Regions from separate parts of the Homo sapiens genome. Here region 2 is linked to region 1. Evidence: fine-mapped expression QTL. Tissue or cell type: esophagus mucosa. Region 1 holds a variant in brackets; the other region holds the start of a gene. All regions are shown on one strand. Distances are between the middles of the regions.

The links. PIP is the estimated chance that this variant, and not a neighbour inherited with it, causes the effect.
Region 2: it holds the start of XPR1, and the variant in region 1 is fine-mapped to the expression of XPR1 in esophagus mucosa (GTEx, PIP 0.96).

What each region holds. Positions count from the first base shown.
Region 1 is chr1:181,255,209-181,257,892 of GRCh38, reverse strand. No RefSeq gene overlaps it. Among named protein-coding and RNA genes, the nearest start is that of LINC01699, 20 kb to the right of the region's middle. The variant T/C (reference allele first, on the strand shown) is at 1,621.
Region 2 is chr1:180,630,649-180,633,332 of GRCh38, reverse strand. XPR1 (xenotropic and polytropic retrovirus receptor 1) reads right to left here and starts at 1,311. Exons shown (of 15, transcript NM_004736.4): 1 at 1,063-1,311. The coding sequence starts at 1,131. RefSeq lists enhancers at 446-946, 947-1,447 and a silencer at 572-951.

The DNA.
Region 1 (2,684 bases):
AGGAAGGCTTAAAAGAGTCTTCAGGCCCCTGGAAGGTGAAAAAAAAATAGAGAACCTCAGCTAGTTGAAACAAATCTGGAGGTTTGGGCAGTACATGGGGTTGGTGCAGGGGGGAGGTGCACATCCCCTTGGTTGAGTCCTGTGTTTTGTGAATTTCGTTAACTTAATACCACTGTATGCATGGCATGAGCTCAGTGTCATTAACAAGACACAATCTTCAAGGAACTTGGGGTACAGAGGGGGAGATGGATGTGACAGAAGATAACTACAATACAGAGAATCAGCAGTGGATGTGCAGGAGTGCAGGAAAAAGCCAAGGGTCCACTTTGAGGGGATAGAGCAGACTTCTTGGAGGAGCAGCCTCTCGGTCTCCTAGCAGCATCACAGCAGGTGACTACTCCCTCCTCCTTGAAACACTTTCTTCACTTAATTCTCCTCCTCCATCCACCCTTCCTTACCTCCCTTGCTGGCGCCTCGTCCTCCACACCTTCGCATGTGGGAATGCCCCAGTCCTCAATCCTCACACCTCTTCTGTCGCTCTTACTCCCTTGAGGAGTTCACACATGTCTTGGCTTTAAACACCACTTGCAATCAGAAACCACCAAATTTGTATTTCTAGCTCTGACCTGTTCCTCTAACCACAGCTCAACATCTCCCCTTCAAGTTCTAATGGTAATCTTTAACTAAATCTAAACTCGACATCTCCCCTTTAAGGTCTAATGGGAATCTTTAACTAAATATGAGCAAAACTGAACACTTGAGTTCCACCCTAATCTCTCAGAAAAACTGCATCTCCCTCAGTCTTCCCATTTCAGGCCAAATCTCTGGAGTTCTTGAGTTCTCTTTTCCTCTCATGCCAACATCCAACCAGTCAGCAAAGTTTGTGTTATCTCCACCTTAAAACTAAGACCCTAATTTATCACCTCTCACCAACTCCATTGCTCTCACCTTGGTCTGAGCCACCAGCTTCTCCCTCTGAGACTTTTGCATCAGCCTCCTAATCAATCTCCTTGCTCCATCTTGCCCTTAAAATCAGAACTATCCTTTAAAATTGTAAGCCAGATGATGTTCCTCATGGCTCAAAAGCTCCCAGTGCTTTCCTGTGTCACTCAGAATAAAATCTAAAGTTTCTCTCATCACCTAGAAAAACATTGGTGTAATCTGGGCCTCTGCCTCTCTGGCCCTGATTCCTATCATTTCTCCACCAGCTCAGTCAGCTCTGGCCATGGCCGCCTTGTTGCTGTTCCTTGAATGTGCCAAGAACCACTTTCCCACTGCTAAGTTCTCCTTTCAATCTGAACCATCTTCCTTCCCCACTGCAATACCTGCCTGACTTTTTTTTTTTTTTTGACAGGGTCTCATTCTGTTGCCCAGACTGGAGTGCCACGGTGTGATCTCGGCTCACTGAAACCTCCACCTCCTGGGTTCAAGCAATTCTCTGTGGATGGCAGCTTCAGCTCCTACGTGACAGGAGCAATTCTCCCACCTCAGTCTCTCCAGTAGCTGGGACTATAGGCACATGCCACCACACCCCGCCAATTTTTGTATTTTTTGGTAGCAAGTAGGGATGGAGTTTCACCGTGTTGGCCAGGCTGGTCTCAAACTCCTGACCTCAGGTGA[T/C]CCACCTGCCTTGGCCTCCCAAAGTGCTGGGATGACAGGCATGACCCACCACACCCAGCACCTGCTTGACTTTCTCCCTCGCTTCAAATGTCATGTCCTCAGAGGGGGCCTCTGTAACACAAATCCTTTGACCTATTATATTTGAGGGTCCCAGCAAGAAGTGGCTAGAACATTCAGCAATGATCTTTGGAGAGATCTTTCCATGAATATTCTACTCAAGGAGGAAACCAAGAAGAGATTTTAAGGCCCCTCAAAACTAGCCACACTAGGAAGCCAATACCACGGTTAGTCCTGCAAGAGGAGAAACTGGTGTTACCAGAGCCCCTCTGAGAGCCAGAGCCATGGAAGTGAGAGTGCTTGATGGCGCTGTGGCCTGAGGAAAACAATCATTGCAAAACTGTGGCCAAGCAGAGAGCAACAGAGCAAGCACCTGGCTCTCTTCCCACCCTCGAGTCTCCTGATGATGCCTCCAAATACAACTGGAAATCAGAGGGCAGAGAGCCCTGATGATGCAATCCATGGAGTTCAGGCTCAAGAGCACAGAGTGGAGCAGAGCAGAGCTATAAGAACAGATCTGGAGCAAGCAGAGATTACTCAGCACATCAATATCCCTGGTTTCCCCTCTTCCAACATGAGTCATCACATTCCTCCTTCTGCCTGCTGTAATGACTGGTGATAGTCCAAAGGATGAGGACTCAGTGAGCCTGGATCACAGAGTGAGAAAGATGCAGAATAGAGCCCACCTGCCCACCCCACAATTAACATGGAGCATGAACAAAAAAAATCAGCCCCTGAGATTTGGGGGTTGTTTGTTACTGCAGTTTCATCTAGCTTCTCCTGACTGATGCACTTCCTCTATCATCTTAACATGCCTTGTTTTCTTCATCAGACTTATCACCACCTGATAAACTTTCAGACTTGTTAATTATCTGTCTCCTTCCTCTAAAATGTAAACTATGGGGACAGGACTTTGTTTGTTTCACTACTAATTCTCTGCATCTAGAACACGACCTGGAAAATAGTGGATGCGGTTCTTTGTTTATCAGGGGAACCCGCCCCCAATA
Region 2 (2,684 bases), 620 kb after region 1:
GGAGGTTACAGATAAGTCTGTCTTTCTCTATCCAGGAGCTGAATTGCCAGCTACTGAGAATAACCTATTGCAATGCTTAAAGCCTCTTAGGTATCTTGTCTTCTGAACATATAAATGGGTTCATTATCTTTATTTTTCCCTTTATTAATGTAAGGTTCCTTATTATCTATTAAATACCTTCCAGCAGTGTTAGCACAGAAATTGGGAGGGAATGGGGAGCATGATTTCTGTAATACACAGGTAAGGTATATTGTTTACAATATACTAATTTTCTCCCCAGCTAGCAAAAACTTAGCAGAAAATAAAAAAATGTTAATAATTCTCTTCTCTCCTTTCTCTTCCCTCCATTCCAAAACAAGAGGCAAAAACAAAGATGTTATTACTCTGTAGACTTCATGCAATCAGTAAAAAGAGTCTTATTATCAAAGCAGAATAGTTGATTACAACGTGTTTACAAAAACTATAACCACTACATATGTGATACACACTTAAGTCAAGTTTCAACCCCGTTACAAAGCCTTTGTCAACAGTGGGCAAGTGGGAAAAAGCCGAAGGGCTCTTTGGAATGAAGGAAATCACTGGAGGGGCTTCTCTTGGAAGACAAGGATTCCTTGGTGAGAGGTGTAGAGAGAGAAACAAGACCTAACCTTGGCGAGGGGGCGCTCGCCCAGGGTGGGGACGAGAGGTCAGGGCGAGTGGGGAGAAGGGGATTAGCGCGGAACAGCCGCGACCCGGGGCTGCCCTCGCACCGTGACTCCCCCACCTGCAGCTCACCCTCCCACCGTTCCCCGGCCCCGGCCCCGGCCCGGGCAGCGCCTTTCCTCCCGGCCCTCCGCCTGCATATCCGTTACCCCGGCGGCAGCGGGGCTGCGGGGGAGGGGAAGGACAGCGGAGCCGGGAGGCGGCCGGCCGCGGCGGGGATGCCGCAGTGGCTCCCCGCGGCAGCGGGTCAAAGTCTGCCCGGGCACAGGGAGCCAGCTGAAGCGGAAGGCGGCGGTGGACGTCAGGACTGGCGAGATGGTGGCCCCTCCGAGTCCTCCCACACCCCAGCCGTGCCGGTACCTCATACTGGATGTATTGCTTCCTCCACTCGGGAGTGATGTGCGCGGAGAGGTGCTCGGCGAACTTCATCCTGCCGTTTCCCCCTCACTCCCACTCGGGTCCAGCAGCTACAGGCGGCGGCGGCAACAGCGACTCCGACTCCTCCCCACATGGGCCCCGGCGCGGCGCGGCGCTGCGCTTCTCTCCTCCTCCGCCGCCGCCGAGGTCTCTTCAGAGCAGCCCGCCCGCCATCTTCCTCCTCCTCTCCATAGCCCCGCCCCTCCCCGCCCTCTGGACGTCATCGCCATGGTAACCGCCTACACCGCCCTGACGAAGGGGGTGCTGTAAGGGGTGGGGCTTGGGTACGCTTCTTAAGACTCCGCCCCTTGTGGGCCGTACGTGCTGGAGGCACCTCCCTGGATCTCTTCAGTCTGGCTCCTGTTGGCCTACAGCTGCTTTCTACCGCCTGTCTGGGAAGCAGCAGTGTTGTTACTGCAGTTAATATTAATACTGTAGCAACAATAATCCACACAAGACGTTTATATTTACAAAGAACTGTGCAAATATTTTTCCATTTTGATATTTATGCTTCATAAAACCTTTAAGAAATGGATCAGCACTAATCCAAACTAAGAAGCTAAAACAGTTCAGGACTAAATGTATTTAAAGGAACAGTATTTTACACACTCTAGGTGCTCAATAAGTGCTTATTGAATTTAATTAAAGACATCAATGCCAAAAAGTGCATGCTGCTTCTGAATTTCAATGTAATTGTCTAGTCCAGGGGCTATCAGAAAAGCCAATAAAAACACCAAATGAGGGTACCGACCGCACTTGTAAACTGAGCTTCCTGGGGTTGGGGGTGAGGGTTGGGAGGGAAACCAACGTTGAGAGGAAAGAGAACCCCGTAGAAGTACAGCTCTAAGCCCACCCCAGTAAAACCGGAAACAGGCCCAGCACCCAGGCTGAAGTGTCCCTGGGGAACATGGGCAGAGATCACTCACAGAGCTCTGTACTACATTGAGTGTGGGAGTGATTGTCTTGGAAGTCCCAATTCAGGACAGAAACCCAGGTCCTACCCTGGGTGGAGGAGACCTAATAATAATTTATTGAGCACTCACTGTTCCTGTACCAAGTGCTATTCTAAACCTCTTACATGTACTTTGTCCCTTGATTCTAACATTTTTTTTTTTGGTCTCGCTTTGTTGCCCAGGCTGGAGTGCAGTCACACCATCATGGTTCACTGCAGCCTTACCTCACATAGGTTTGTGAGCCATCCTCCCACCTCAGCCCCCTGAGTAGCTGGGACTACAGGCACATGCCATTATGCCAAACTAATTTTTTTGTTTATTTTTGGGAGAGATGTGGGTCTTGCTATGTTGCCCAGGCTGGTCTTGAGCTCCTGAGCTAAAACAGTCCTCCCACCTAGGCCTCCTAAAGTGCTGGAATTACAGGCATGAGCCACCTTGCTCAGCCTAACCCTCACAATTTTGATGAGATTTCAAGATTTACTAGGGAACTGCTATGCCTGGAGCAGTGCTCTGAGATATCATTCTCTGCTGTTGTCTTTTTTTCTCCATGTACTTTTTTCCCCTTTCTCTTCCCCTTAATTCATGCCAATAGGGATTCTGCAATCATTTCCC